2 separate regions of the Homo sapiens genome follow, and region 2 is reported to be linked to region 1. The links are microRNA targets in miRTarBase. Many come from high-throughput screens and were not tested one by one. Region 1 holds a microRNA gene; the other region holds the end of a gene's coding sequence.
Evidence for each region. Region 1 holds the annotated microRNA hsa-miR-6733-3p (UCAGUGUCUGGAUUUCCUAG, at 1,208-1,227, shown strand). A microRNA usually pairs through its seed, bases 2 to 8, with sites in the 3' UTR of a target mRNA and lowers its output. Matches are read on the target gene's strand: a 7mer-m8 pairs with bases 2 to 8, a 7mer-A1 pairs with bases 2 to 7 and ends in A, and an 8mer does both.

Region 2: the mRNA of ZBTB5 is a reported target of hsa-miR-6733-3p. Seed matches in the 3' UTR shown: 7mer-m8 at 1,393-1,399 and 7mer-m8 at 2,116-2,122.

What each region holds. Positions count from the first base shown.
Region 1 is chr1:43,169,478-43,172,878 of GRCh38, reverse strand. MIR6733 (microRNA 6733) reads left to right here and starts at 1,167; the gene lies at 1,167-1,227. It overlaps EBNA1BP2 (EBNA1 binding protein 2), which reads left to right and starts at 589. Exons shown (of 9, transcript NM_006824.3): 1 at 589-826; 2 at 910-993; 3 at 1,228-1,400; 4 at 2,000-2,123. The coding sequence starts at 761. It overlaps CFAP57 (cilia and flagella associated protein 57), which reads right to left and starts at 549. Exons shown (of 23, transcript NM_001378189.1): 1 at 426-549; 2 at 1-144. The coding sequence starts at 125. RefSeq lists a silencer at 123-322 and enhancers at 433-482, 563-692, 242-877, 823-1,052, 878-1,514.
Region 2 is chr9:37,437,934-37,441,334 of GRCh38, reverse strand. It overlaps ZBTB5 (zinc finger and BTB domain containing 5), which reads left to right. Exons shown (of 2, transcript NM_014872.3): 2 at 1-3,233. The coding sequence ends at 817. It also overlaps a transcript of GRHPR not described here. Among named protein-coding and RNA genes, the nearest start is that of GRHPR, 17 kb to the right of the region's middle.

The DNA.
Region 1 (3,401 bases):
TTGTACTTCACACAGTGATTTCCTGAAGGAAATATAATGATCTGTTCATCGAAGTAGAAGATATTGTTGGCCACGTGGGATCGAAGACCAAAAACATGCAGCGTCTGAGCTACCACGGCTGACATGATCTCCCGCCAAACAGTTCTGCTGAAGACCAAGGCAGCGCTTCAGAGTGGAGAGCACCGCCCCGCTCCGACCCCGCCCCCGGCCCGGACTCGCCCTCCCCGCCCTTTGCTCCTCCCCTTGTCTCTCCCCTTTCTCCTCCCCTTGTCCCTCCCCTTTCCCCTCCCCTTGTCCCTCCCCTTTCCCCTCCCCCGGGGTCCTCCTCCGCGCCACCCCACCCCCGCGGCTCCTTTTTCTGCCTTTTCCTTTGTACCCTCACTGCTACCAGCTCCTTCTGGCGACCCCCAGGTACCCCCTCCCACCTTTCGTTTCTCTCTGGGTCAGCAGACCACGCATGTATCCAGAGGCGCTACCTGTAGGGATCCTAAGCAACCCGGACACTTTCAAACGCCGTAGCGGTTCCTATAGCAACGACAAACCGGAAGTATGGTTTGCCGCCGGAAGCGGAAGTCCCAATCAAAAGTTGAGCAGTAGCTGTGAGTTGCTGGCGCTGGAGCGATTCGGTGGCACGTGGAGCCACGGCGTGGGAGTAGGGGGCTGAAGGCAGGCAGCAGCGGCCAGGGCCGCCCTCTGCTAGCCGCTTGGGTCTCGGGATACCCCGTTTCTTCCTGTAGGTGTGGGACGTGCGTGCGGCGAGATGGACACTCCCCCGCTCTCGGATTCGGAGTCGGAATCCGATGAATCCCTTGTCACAGACAGAGAGGTAGGTGTCAGCCGAGCTCGTGGGGCTGGGCGTGGGAGAGGGGGCCTTACACCCCTGGGAGTGACCGTGATTGTGTCCTGCAGTTGCAGGATGCGTTTTCCCGAGGGCTTCTGAAGCCAGGCCTCAATGTCGTGCTAGAGGGGCCGAAGAAGGCCGTGAACGACGTGGTGAGCGTGGGCACAGGGTCGGGGGTACTCGGACATGGGATGCGCTTCAGGCGCTGTTGGGCTTGGGAGACCGATTCTTGTCCCAGGAAAGATGCACCCTGCGCCTCGCCAAGAGGGTCAATTACCTGTCTGGGTATTGGGGATTAGCACTTTGTCCCTTCGCCTAACAGCCTGTGCTTGGGAAAGACAAACTCAGAGTTCCCTTCTTGTGAGCTCAGTGTCTGGATTTCCTAGAATGGCCTGAAGCAATGTTTGGCAGAATTCAAGCGGGATCTGGAATGGGTTGAAAGGCTCGATGTGACACTGGGTCCGGTACCGGAGATCGGTGGATCTGAGGCGCCAGCACCTCAGAACAAGGACCAGAAAGCTGTTGATCCAGAAGACGACTTCCAGCGAGAGATGAGTTTGTATGTTTGTTTTCAAATGTTGGAGAAGTTGAGGATCCTTGTGCAGGAGAGTGGGAAAGAGGGGAAATTAGTAAGTCTGCACTCAGAATAAGCCTAGGAGTAGAGAGAGCGGCTTCTTTTGACTAAGAATAGCTAGGAGATTCTTCCTGTTTGAGAGAAGAGCTCTTTGGTCCACGGTCACGATCCAAAATCCACTTTATGGGCTAATTTGAAATATTCATGTTAAAACTTTTTGTGCATGCTTCAGTTATTAGGAAAACAAACAAACAAACATTGCTTATGGGATGTTCTTGTGTGGAATTGCTTTAGTAATTACATAAGAATCCATAATCGACATTCGTTTGTGTTAATGGGTACCTTTAGAGTAGTCATTCTCTTAAACTATTTTTAGCAACACCCCTCCCCTTTTTAAAAACTAGTATACGGCTACATTTCTTTTAGATACTAAATCAGTGAGACAGTTTTTGTTTGTTTGTTCTTGCTAATGGAGGTCAGATTTTGAGAGTCCTTCTGAGCTTGGATAACTCATGATTGGCGGTGAAAAGGAACGTAAGGCCTCCTCCTTCACCTCATTACACATTTTGTCCTACGATTCTCAGCTATCGCCAAGCCCAGGCCGCAGTGCTTGCAGTCTTACCCCGCCTCCATCAGCTCAAAGTCCCTACGAAGCGACCCACTGATTATTTTGCGGAAATGGCCAAATCTGATCTGCAGATGCAGAAGGTAAGAAATAGAAGTTTTCCTCTGGAAAGTCAAAACTTTGTACTTAAGCATATTCAGCTGGCTTAGAAAGATAGCTATGAGCCCAATAACGGGGAGCCAGTTGTCAGAGGACAATTATTACCTCTTCCATAGATTGGCTACTTCAGAGTCATGCCAGTTACCACCAATTAGATGCATATAAAAATGACATTTTTTCTAAAATCAGCAATTAAGGAGAGGAACAGTGCTGTGTGAAGTGTGGTCCCCGAGGTGAAGATGGCCCAGTGCATTTCCTAGCTGGCATGGTCATGACATGGTGTGCAGAGAGGACAGCATTCTTGTGCCCTTGCCACTGTCAGTGCTAGAACTTGTAGACAATTACTTTTCTCTGGGCCTCAGTTTTCTCCTCTGTAAAATGAGGGATTCTTAGATGGTTCAGATATAGTACAATTTAGAGTTGGGTAGAACTTGGACCTCATTTAACTTTGGAAGAAGGGATTGCCAGCATGTAATCCAACATACATTCAGCCCTCCATAGCCATGGGTTCAGCATCTGTGGATTCAACCAACCTTGGATCAAAAATATTGGGGAAAAAAATTTGAAAATATTGCAAAAGGAAAACTGAATTTTCCGTGTGCCGAGAACTACATTGAATCCATGAGAATGAGGTGATGCATAGCATTGTATTCGGTATTATAAGTAATCTAGAGACTATTTAAAGAAGCGGTCTGGCACTAGAGACTAGTTTCGTGGATGACAATTTTTTCATGAACTTGGGGAGGGGATAGTTTTGGGATGAAACCGTTCCATCTCAGATCATCAGGCATTAGATTCTCATAAGGAGCAGGCAACCTAGATCCTTTGCATGCATAGTTCCATGCATAGTTCACAGTAGAGTTCGCACTCCTATGAGAATTTAACGCCACCACCAATCTGACAGGAGGTGGAGCTCAGGTGGTAATGCTTGCTTGCCTGTCACTCACTTTCTGCTGTGCGGCCTGGTTCCTAACAGGCCACAGATTCATAGTGGGTTCGTAGCGGTCTGTGGCCTGGGAGTTGAGGTCCTCTGACTTTAAAGGATACTGGAGGCGAGTGTAGGTTATATGCAAATGCTGCACCATTTTTATATAAAGGACTTGAGCATCTGTGGATTTTGATATCTGTAGTGGGTCCTAGAACTAATCCTCTATGGATACTGAGGGATAAGTATATTTAAATAGTACCCTGGGGTCTCAAGCTGGATTTTAGGGAGCTTTTGTCGTGGTAGTAGTTCACCTTCTTACTGTGAACTCTGTACA
Region 2 (3,401 bases), not on the chromosome of region 1:
TTTTAGTATTTCGAATTTTCTTAACAAGAGCAGAGGAAATAACTTTACTGCAAATCAGAACAATGATGATAATATTCCAAACACCACTAGTGACTGCAGGCTGGAGAGTGAGGCCCCCTATTTGTTGAGTCCAGAGGCTGGGCCTGCAGGTGGGCCCTCCTCTGCCCCTGGCTCCCATGTAGAGAACCCATTTAGTGAACCTGCAGACTCCCACTTCGTCAGGCCTATGCAGGAGGTGATGGGCCTGCCGTGTGTGCAGACTTCAGGCTACCAAGGAGGAGAACAGTTTGGGATGGACTTTTCCAGGTCTGGTTTGGGCCTCCACTCCTCCTTCTCCAGGGTAATGATAGGTTCCCCAAGGGGAGGAGCCAGTAACTTTCCTTACTACCGCCGCATAGCTCCCAAAATGCCAGTTGTAACTTCCGTCAGGAGCTCACAGATCCCAGAAAACTCTACCAGTTCTCAGCTAATGATGAATGGAGCTACGTCCTCATTTGAAAATGGCCATCCTTCCCAGCCTGGCCCTCCACAGTTGACCAGGGCATCTGCAGATGTTCTGTCAAAGTGCAAGAAGGCCTTATCAGAGCACAATGTTTTGGTTGTAGAGGGAGCTCGCAAGTATGCCTGCAAAATCTGCTGCAAAACTTTTCTGACTTTGACAGATTGCAAGAAGCACATCCGTGTTCACACAGGTGAAAAGCCTTACGCCTGCCTGAAGTGTGGCAAGAGGTTTAGTCAGTCCAGCCACCTGTATAAGCACTCAAAGACTACCTGCCTGCGCTGGCAGAGCAGCAATCTTCCCAGCACTTTGCTCTAGCTGTTTGTCCTTACAAGACAACGCTGAGGCCAGTTGTCAGACTGAATTTCTTTTGGTAAGCAGTTAATGCCTTTGGGTTCGAGGCTTCCAGCTGCCCAGTGGCTCTTAAACAGTTTAGCAACTAATAACCGGAGAACTAACATGTAGTATTTGTGCTGCTGCATTTCTGAGTGAAGTGCACGTCTTGGGAAAGGGATGCAATCCCTGAAACCAGGTGCTTCCTTGGGGTTGAGTAATGCAGTCAGAAAGTAGTTTGTAATTGATATTAAAAGTGGCACATTTAAAAATTTAAAAATTGAAGTGCAAAAAAAATTTTTTAGCAATTTTTGTAAAACTGTGTAGCATTTAAATTTCCTATACCTTCTGATGGGAGTATTATATCCCTGTATAGTGATGCAAAATGCACTTATGTGTAACCAGTGGTGATTTGGTGCCTGTCTTAAAGGAAGGCCTTTGAGGACACACCTGTCTGCCACAAATGCTTTAAAGTGTATCATGAGCTAGTCCTAGGCCTCAAAGTACTGTATTTTTTATTTTTACCTGATTTGCAGTCATAAACACTGCACTTTGGTGCTGACACTGGGTCCAGAGTGAGCATTCTCTTGGACTATTAGATGTATATACTTTTGAATACATCACTGTTGGATAGATGTTTTAACAGTTTTTTCTGGTTTAAAAACCAAATTGTAAATGGAGTGTGTACTTGTAGAGAGTGACAAGGTATTGTTTCCCTATGTGCTGTTTGAGCAGTATTTTAACCAACTTGTATTACAGATGTTACAGTTCCATGTTAGGAAGTCAGAAAAGACTTGTGTTTGTCTTTGTTCTGCTGATGTGGAGTCATGTTTTGTGGGGTCTTCCATGGCACATTTACCTGTTGCTCCGTCCAGATGTTGAGGGCCAGTCTAGGCTGACACATCCTACCCGAGGACAAGCCTGTTCTCCATTTCTTCACTCTCCCCTCCCCATATAGCAACTCTCCCAGGTTTAGATTACCGTTTTCGACGACAGATTAACCAAAAATGCCCCACACAGGTTTTATTACTGTTATATACTATACTTTTAACAGTACAGACCCTAAATTTTATTATTTGTTGCTCCCCCAATCTGATACCAAATGTTTAAAGTTGTTTGAAATCCAAACATGGTAGTGTTCATGGGTAAATATTTTCTAGGCTATGTAAGAGTTAGCAGCCCATAGCATAGAAGTAATCAAGTAGCATCTGAGACTGTTGGAGGCACTAGGGCCTCTCTGGGCCCTACAGCCTCACTTCCCCAGCCTCACCTTGCTGTCCTCTGACACTGCCATCAGGGCTGTTAGTGGCACCTGTATGAGGCCAAGTGTGCGTCCAGGGGAACAGCACAGGTTAATGCGTCTCCCTAGAACTCATGAAGTCAGTTTAATTCATGCATGAACATGAGTTCATTTTATGTTTTATATAGCTTTCTTAGACATACCAAACCATCATTCATAAATCAGATAAATTATTCAGTTTTTGTGTTTAGAAAGCTAAGTATGTGTAGCTGGAAACAAAAATGAGCGTGTTTTCTCTCCTGTTAATCTAGAGTGTGCAGTTACACATGTGTGGATAATTTCATGTTCCAGGGGCGCTTGGCATCTCCCATGGACTGATTCCCAGGAAGAAAAGCCCAAAGGGAAACCCACGATTCCTTTCGAGTAGATGTGGGAAAGAGCCCATTGGAGGATATGAGGTCCTGTGAAATTCAGTTGTGTGTGTGGCTCCTTGTTAGCAGTCATGTTGACATGGTGTTAGGAGGCTCCCCATCCACCCTTTACATGATGTAGGGACCAGTGTCTTGTGAGATTAACCTTGGGACACAGTGGGTTAGCCTGGAGAAAATGAGAGGCCCTGCCTGGACCCAGGGAGAGGAGCCAGTGACACAGGCAGAGCGGTGCAGCCCTCCTTCCCTTCCATTTGGAGGAGGTGGTGCCAGGAGCCTGCCCGCTTACCTCTGCTGAAGCATAAGTGGACTTTGCTTTTGGGGCTTATCTCTGATACATGCTGGAGCCCTGCCTCTCCACTGCTAGATGGAACCTGGAATCTCTCATCTACCTCTTAGTCTGTCAGTTTCTACGTGTGAGAAGCAAGCTTGTGGGCCAGTGTCCTTGTACATGCTGTAGCACTTAAAAAATAATTCCAGGGTTCCCTGGAAAACCAGTCCCAGGGTTCCTATGATCTGTAGTTTCTACCTGGATTATAACTGGTTTTGGGTACCTGAATTTTGATTGGTTAGCCTTAATTATAGTCTGGCGTGATCATGTAGAATCTTTTCTGGTGAACAGATCATAAAGTTCTATCAAGGAGTTCTATCAAGGCATCCATGTCAGTGGTGCTATGCTGGTTACAACTTGAGATTTTTGAAATAAAAAATTTGTCATATTCATGCCTCTAAATATGTGTTCTTTTTCTTTACGTTATTAAGGTTGAAACCAAAGAGGGTAATATCTCTTTGCCAGCCCTTCTTTGACTAGTACTTTGTTTTAAACCAAACCTTCTATTAACAGTTAATTGGTCGTTCCTCTCAAATCATTCCCTTCTGCCTTCCCCCGCCTTTTCTGTCT